Regions from separate parts of the Homo sapiens genome. Here regions 1 and 3 are each linked to region 2. The links come from fine-mapping of genetic effects on gene expression. A gene starts in region 2. Each other region holds a variant in brackets. All regions are shown on one strand. Distances are between the middles of the regions. Region 1 overlaps ZRANB2-DT (ZRANB2 divergent transcript). Region 2 holds the start of CTH (cystathionine gamma-lyase). Region 3 overlaps LOC102724572 (a long non-coding RNA gene).

Evidence for each region. PIP is the estimated chance that this variant, and not a neighbour inherited with it, causes the effect.
Region 1: its variant is fine-mapped to the expression of CTH in monocytes after R848 (Quach 2016, PIP 0.95).
Region 3: its variant is fine-mapped to the expression of CTH in prefrontal cortex (GTEx, PIP above 0.99).

The regions. Positions count from the first base shown.
Region 1 is chr1:71,161,290-71,164,105 of GRCh38, forward strand. The region is part of intron 2 of ZRANB2-DT (ZRANB2 divergent transcript); the gene reads left to right. Among named protein-coding and RNA genes, the nearest start is that of ZRANB2-DT, 81 kb to the left of the region's middle. The variant T/TAC (reference allele first, on the strand shown) is at 1,158.
Region 2 is chr1:70,410,022-70,412,686 of GRCh38, forward strand. CTH (cystathionine gamma-lyase) reads left to right here and starts at 1,247. Exons shown (of 12, transcript NM_001902.6): 1 at 1,247-1,562. The coding sequence starts at 1,395. RefSeq lists an enhancer at 818-1,077 and a silencer at 1,138-1,287.
Region 3 is chr1:70,848,490-70,851,305 of GRCh38, forward strand. The region is part of intron 3 of LOC102724572 (a long non-coding RNA gene); the gene reads left to right. Among named protein-coding and RNA genes, the nearest start is that of LINC01788, 140 kb to the left of the region's middle. The variant C/T (reference allele first, on the strand shown) is at 1,333.

The sequences.
Region 1 (2,816 bases), 750 kb after region 2:
CAGTGGATTAGATGGTGCCATTCGCGTTGGGGAGGGCAATCACTTTACTGAATCCCCTGATTCAACTGCTAATCTTATCCAGAAACACCCTCATAGACACACTCAGAAACGTGTTTACTCTGGGGACCTTGTGGCCCACTCAAGTTGACACCTAAAATTAACCACAAGTCTCCTCCTTGTCAACTGAGCACCCACACACATCTTCTTAAACCATATTCAATCTCCAAATGAAGACAATAATAAGGTCATAATTCCACCTAACATAATACAACTATCCTGTGTACAACTAAAAACACACTAACCCTTTCCCCAGAAGAGGAGGTAAATGTCTTTTCTTTTCTTTTCTTTTTTTTGTGAGACTGAGTTTTGCTCTTGTCACCCAGGCTGGAGTGCAATGGTATGATCATGGCTCACTGCAACCTCCACCTCCCAGGTTCAAGCAATTTTCCTGCCTCAGCCTCTTGAGTAGCTGGGATTACAGGCGCCCACAACCACACCTGGCTAATTTTTGTATTTTTAGTAGAGATGGGGTTTCACCATGTTGACCAGGCTGGTCTCGAACTCCTGACCTCAAATGATTTGCCACCTCAGCCTCCCAAAGTGCTGGGATTACAGGCATGAGCAACCGTGCCTGGCTGCAGGTAAATTTCTTGAGTGATGTTTTATATTCCTTTTAATATCCTGTAATGTAAATACTGTAATATAAAATCAACAATTTTAAATTATGTGATATAAAATAAATACATGTTATGTGAAAAGAGAATTAGAAAGAAAACAAACATACTGATTTGATTGGCTCTGTGTCCGCGCCCAAATCTCATCTCCAGTTGTAATCCCCACATGTCAGGGGAGGGACCTGGTGGGAGGTGATTGGATCATGGGGGCAGATTTTCCCTGTGGTGTTCTCATGACAGTGAGGGAGTTTTCCTGAGAGCTGATGGTTTTAAGTGGCAATTCCTCACTCTTTCTCTCTCTCTCCTGCTGCCATGTTAGACGTGCCTTGCTTCCTCTTCACCTTCTGCCATGATTGTAAGTTTCCTGAGGCCTCCTCAGCCATGTGGAACTGTGAGTCAATTAAACTTCTTTCCTTTATAAATTACTCAGTCTCAAGTATTTCTTTATAGTAGTGTGAAAACAAATTGGTACAGATACAGACA[T/TAC]ACACACACACACACACACACACACACACACACACACAAATGGAAATGTATTATGAGGAATAGGCTCACATGATTCTTAGTCAGTTTGGGCTGCTATAACAAAGAATTATAAACTATTTATTAGAAATTTGTTTTCATAGAAATTTATTTCTCACAGCTCTGGAGGCTAGAAATCCAAGATCAGGTTGTCAGCAGGTTTGGTGCCCACCAAGGCCTCTCTCCTTGGCTTGCAGCCCTTGGCTGATTTTTTTTTTGCTGTGTCCTCACATGGTCTTTTCTCTGTATGTGCATCCCTGGTGTCTCTCTGTGCGTCCAAATTTTCTGTTCTTATAAGGACCCCAGTCAGATTGCATTAGGGCTCACCCATGTGATATCATTTAAACTTAATTACCTCTTTAAAAGTCCTGTCTCCAAAAACTGCCTCATTCTGAGGTAGCGGGGGATAGAGCTTCAACATATGAATTTGCAGGGAACACAATTTACTACATAACAAAATATGACAGATCTCTGAAAGGTAACATGGACTCTTACTTTTTATCTTATGTATTTTTATTTCCTCCTTATTCTAGAGGCAGTGTAGCACAACTAAATGCATGGCTCTGGAGCCAGCCTACCTGCATTCATTCTTTGCCATGCTACTTACTAGATTTGCAACCAAAGGCAAATTGCTTGACTTCTCTGTATCTCAGTTTCCTTGCATGTGAAATGGAAATGGAATTGTCAGTAATAACTACCTCATTGGATTGGTGTGAAGTTTAAATGGATGAATACATATAACATACTTAGTAGTTGCTGGCACACAATAAACATTCAATAAGTGTTAAGTATGAAGAATAACAATAATTTCTGGCCATAAAATATATAATAAGATACTTATACATATTAGTGCTATAGATAAATATTTGTATTCTGTAGAGATGTATCAATTTTTCCATTAAATGGCATAATCAGAAAGAAAGATGTATAAATTTAAGGTGACTATCCCAGCTATAATTTGCATCACTTACTTTTCACATATTCACATACAGCATATATCTGTCTGACCATCTGTGTTTCTAAAATAACTCCAGTGAGATTTCAGACACCTAATATTGTTAATAACAAAAACGCCATGTGTCTTTTACATTTGTGTGGGTGATAATTCTGTACTTTAGTTTACCGTATTAAATTCACCCTTAATCTAGTTTTTGGTATATTTTGAAACATGGGTTAGCCCTTTTATTTTTTCTTTATAAATACATTACCATCGTTTTCTCTCTCATCTTCACAAATTCTAAATAATAAGCAAAAAGGAAAAAAATTTTAAATGATAAATATTTTATGCGTGTGCTTTTATATACAGTACCTTTCACCCATAACAATGACCTGCTAATAGTCAAATCCAATGAACTGTGTTCGGGCATTAACTAATTTATTGAAAGCAATGTCTCTGCATCACTTTTTTTTCTTTTTACTAACACACATAGCATTTGCTCTTTGCCTAGCCCTGCTATAAGCAATTTCCATTTATTAAATTATTTAGTTTTCAGAACAGCCCTATAGAGTAGGTGTTATTATTCCCATTTTACAAATGAGGAAATTTAGGCACAAAGAGATTAAGCTACTTGCCCTTCAGTGAGTACATAGTCGGGCCATCATTAGGCCTAGGCAGTCATGTTG
Region 2 (2,665 bases):
TCTATCCATTTTTTCCCCCAGCCATACAAAGTTTGGTAGGATTCTAAAAGCTTGTAGGCCCTCAAGCACCACTCCTCTAGTGCTTAATGGGTTAAATGTCCCTAAAGCTAATTTGAAAAGCAAATTGCCTCATTCTTTCTCTTCATATCTTTCTTTCAAACTGTAAATTTTAAGAGCTGTTTATTCCTTATTCTCCTTGTTCTTAATTTGTTTAATAAAGTTTTAGATCTTTAGCGAATATTTTGCAACAACAGAAATATCCCCAAATTTCCTGGTGCTAGAAAACAGCCACAATAGTAAGTAGGTCAAGTCTGTATTGCTTAGGGAACAGGGAGATTTTTGTTTTAAAGCAGTGATTCTTCTGAGAGTAGGGCTCTGGGCGCAGGTGAGTGGTAAACAATCCTTTTTCCTGCAGGGATGTTGCTGTTGTGTAAAAGCAAAAGCATTTTGTGTAAGGATGTTAGGCTCCAGTAAGTATTTCAAAGCCACATTATCTTTCTCATTAGGGGGAGTTTCTCTCTGTACTTTAAAAGAAGATAATGATGCTTGAAAAAGCTCAAGATTGACTAACTTTTAGGAAGCTGCCAGAGTTGTGCATAGACGTCCTCACTACAGTAGCTTCGTTATGTCTTACGAACAATTTAACCTTCACTTCTAGTCATCGTTTCGTCATCGTAAGCACTGGGTCATTACAGAGTTCAGTGTACCTAAAACGCAAGCTGTGACTGATGAGAATCCAAGCTGCAAACTGGGCGGCTTGGGCAACTGTTTTCTTAACCACCCTCCACGTTGTGGCTTACGTCTTTTAGCACCGCCCTCAGGGCAAAGGATGGTGGTCAGAGGTAACTACCACAGTAAAAGAAGGCTATTTATGTGGTCTGTTTACAGTTACCCGGTTTCAACACTAAGCCAGCTTTCCGCCACGTCTCGGGCGAACCTCCGGCCTGAGGTCACAGAGACGCCCGGGTGGCTCTCAGGAGCCAGCATGGCAGCCTCCTCAGGACGGGTACTCAGGAATTTCGCCCGCAGGGACTAACACCACTTGGACCCAGGGACTCCAGCTTCACTCCGCTTTGTGCACTGGGTGGGGCGGTCGCGGTGACGTTTCAGGCAACGCCTCTGCTGTCAGCCAATAAGGAGCGGGAGACGCGTCGGGCCTGCGCTCAATGGGCCGCGCTGGTCCCGCCCCACTGTGATCGTGAGACTGCAGACCCGCTAATAAAATCCACCCCAACAATCGCTGTGTGCCGCTTTAGTGCGCTCGCCGTCGGCTCTACCTGCGTGCTTTAGCTCCTTCTCGCCTGATCCTTCTGTCTCTCCCAACCCCGGACACCCGGCTTCGACTGGTTATATCTTCGGTGTTCTTTTCCTCTCTTCTTCTTTCGCGGTTCAGCATGCAGGAAAAAGACGCCTCCTCACAAGGTTTCCTGCCACACTTCCAACATTTCGCCACGCAGGCGATCCATGTGGGCCAGGATCCAGAGCAATGGACCTCCAGGGCTGTAGTGCCCCCCATCTCACTGTCCACCACGTTCAAGCAAGGGGCGCCTGGCCAGCACTCGGTGAGCTGGGTCTGTCTGGGGCTGTCCACAGTTGGGCGGTAAAAGAGATACGGCTTATGAATTTGAAAGGCATGTAAGTAATTTATAATATGACTTATAAATTAGGAAGGCAACCGAAAGATGTTTCTACACTGTAATTCTTGCAGCACAGCTTTGTATCGGATGGTCCAGTGATCGTATTTCTTTTGATAAGCAGGACTGGAAGGAGCCGTTTGTCCAGCTTGCCATTTAGATTTGGCCTGAAATTCAGGTGATTTTGACAAATTTGCAATTAAAAATCGAAGGTCATAACTTTTTTGAGTTACCTTTAGCAGCATAAATTTTAAAGATGTAGTACGGAGTCAGCTTAAAAAATATTAAGGGTCTGATAACTTGACTAGAATTAAGATTGTTTCCAGTAGCTGTATGAATAGTTATTGAGTACCTACTATATGCCAAATACGTGCTCGTATATATCATGTGTATTACATGTATTGTCTCATCTAATCCTAACAACAACCCTAGTCTGAACCGAATTCTCATTTTTTCCCAATAAAGAAGCTGAGATTTAGGGAGTTAAGTAACTAGCCTTAGACTAGTAAGTATTGGAGATGGAATTCAAACTTTAGAAACTTGAGGTTGCTTTAGGAACCAACTCCTAGGCACTCAGCTACACTATGCTATCTCTAATAATGCTAGTAACAATTTAGCCTATTGCGTCATTTAAGCACTGTGGCTTAGTGATTAAGAACACAACTCATGACCGGGTGCAGTGGCTTACGCCTGTAATCCCAGCACTTTGGGAGGCTGAGGCGGGTGGATCACCTGAGGACAGGAGTTCGAGCCCAGCCTGGCCAACATGGTGAAACCCCATCTCTACTAAAAATAAATAAATTAGCTGGGCATGGTGGCGGGTAATCTCAGCTACTCGGGAAGCTGAGGCAGGAGAATCGCTTGAACCCAGGAGGCAGAGGTTGCAGTGAGCCAAGATCTCACCATTGTGCTCCAGCCTGGGTGACAAGAGTGAAACTCCAACTCAAACAACAACAGAAAAAGAGAACACAAATCTTATAGTCAAAGGCTAGGTTTGCATTCTGACACCACTTCTTCTGAGCTGGGGGACC
Region 3 (2,816 bases), 440 kb after region 2:
GACAATAGTCTTTGTTCTTGGAACTACTTTATGTCTGAGTATCTACTGTAGTGTCACAGATTATTATCCTTCAGGGATCTTGGAGGAGTTACTACTCTTTCTTATGGAGAGTCCATAAGATTTTTCCCCTGATAGGTAAGGTGTCATTTATTTCTTGGTGCTTTCACAATTTTTTATTTTGTCTTTAGTTATCTTCTTATTTTGATGTGTAAACTTTATAGTTTTAATAGTATGATCATGTAAGAGAAAAAATGGCATTTATGAATTTCAATCATTCCTTTAGTTCAGGCTTGTTTGTTTAAAAAACAAATAATTGAAATATTTGAAGATTAAAACAGAAACTCAAAATTTTATTAATTTAAGGAGGAAAGAATTCAAAATTTAAGTCCCAAATAAATCATTGTGTATACAAAGATTTAATACGAAGCTTTAATTATAAGGCTTTATTAACTAGCTAGTTAAATGATATTAGGGTTGTGGCTGGTAAATTAAAAGCAAATAAGAATCAATTTTACTTGAAAATAAAAGCTTTTGGAAAAAGGTATGAAGCAAGAAGTTTATCTACTCCCTCTTATATTGGACATGTGCAAGAATGGTTTTAATTATTTAGTAATCCAGACATCAAGAATTTGTAGTAAAGTGTACACACTGAAGCTGTGGGTATTCTGGGAGCAGTCAGCTGAGGCACCCAAATAACAGCTGTTGCCAGCTAATAGAAATATACTTAATATTAAAACAAGCAAACAAACAAAGAAACTTGGGAAAAATCAGGCACAAACCGCCAAAATGATTTATTTCTTTTAATTGTGATGTAGGCTGACAGAATGAAAATTAATAATCATAAAATTTTTAAGTAAAATTATTAGCCTTTTGCAATTTTTGTTGCACAGAACCCTAATCCAAGGGCATTTACTTTTCAAGCCAGATAGGATTTTGCCAGTTTCCCAAGCTAACTCCCTGATGATACAAAAATAAACTAATGAATGGCTCAGAGTTTATGAGCCATTCTCCAAGACAATTTGTCTTATTGAAATAATTGGGTGGCCCAGAACTCTGAAGAATGCTTGTCATTTTTCAAATAAAATTACTCATATTTTTGGACAGTTTTAAACTGTTCATTTGCACTATTTTTCTCTCTAATATGACATACCATTTGGAATCTAAATTTTGTTTTTATATTGTAATTCTGCTTTAGAGAAAAAATATATGTTGGATACAAATATGGACTGGGTATGTTTATCGCAAGCTATTTTTTCTTCCATATTTGTTATTATGAGTAAAAACTTCTATGATTCTTAATATAATGCATTTTCCTGTAAAAAATTTATTCTT[C/T]GACATGTAATACTTACAATTGGATGTTACCATCCTTCTTGGGCTATTATTATCAAATATTAAAGTATTACTTTCATTTCAAGAACTTCAGTAAGAAGAGAATGAATTCAGGGCTTTGCACATGAAGCCAAGCAGATGCCTGTGTTTACAAATAATAAACATAATGAAAAATTTCAATTGAAATCTAAATAAATAAATCTATGCATTTGCATGTGCCTTTATTTCTCTAGTCTATGTAAAGAGAAAAGCCAAATAGAAAGATAGGAAAACAAAACAAACAAAAAACCCTCTGACCTATATATTACAATTTGAAAAGGTGCATTCACTAGATCTCAATATTTAAGGAGGCATTGCTTCTTAAACGTCCAGAGGAATTTGTATGTTAACACCAATTTTGTGTGTGGCGGTGATGTATTAATATGATCTGGTATGTCTTAGAAATGTTTCTCTTTTTTTCAAACTGATTATGACACCCACCCATTTCAATAAATTAGCATTATCATCTCAACCAAATCGTCTTGCAGTGACATCAGATTCTCTTATTATTGCATGAGCTATGTTTGAAAAGTAATTAGAATTAATATTTCTGTTTCCTATCATCCAAATTAGCATTAATTGCACACATAACATTTTGTTTACAGCACTCACCAGACATGTAATAATCCTAGTAAAGACATGGATAGGAAAGGTCCAGAGGAAGGGAAGAGATAATATGCATGCTGAAAGGAGGGAAACCCCAGTTGAACTTAAAACTAATTTATGGAATGTGATCATATTTGACAAACAGGTTGTCCATAAAGGCAGGAAACCTTTACTATTTTTTTTTTTTTGAGTTGGACTCTTGCTCTGTCATCCAGGCTGGAGTGCAGTTGTGCGATCACGGCTCACTGCAACCTCTGCCTCCTGGGTTCAAGCGATTCTCCTGCCTCAGCCTCCCGAGCAGCTGGGACTATAGGTGCTTACCACCGCGCCTGGCTAATTTTTTGTATTTTTAGTAGAGAGAGGGTTTCACCGTGTTAGCCAGCATGGTCTTGATCTCCTGACCTTGTGATCCATATCCCAAAGTGCTTGGAATTACAGGCGTGAGCCACCGTGCCCTGCCAGACACTTACTTTTAATACCTTTTTGCATAAGTGTCAATGCTTCACAAACAAGGGATGTTCCACGAAGAAATCTGTGTGGTGGTAGCAGGGGTGAGGTGTGGTTAGAGATGGAGATTTGGGAAAATAGAAAGTATAGTAAACTGCCTGTTTCCCAGGCTGTTTCCAAGAACAAAATCTGAACTGTAGGGAGAGAAAGCGTTATGGAAATAGAGATAGAGATCGAGATAGATATAGAGATCGAGATAGAGATAGAAATAGGTAGAGATAGAGCTAGAGCTAGATGTAGAGGTAGAGCTAGAACTAGAGCTAGAGATAGAGATGAGGTGGAGATATAAGTATAGCTAGAGCTAGAGGTAGAACTAGAGGTAGAACTAGAGATAG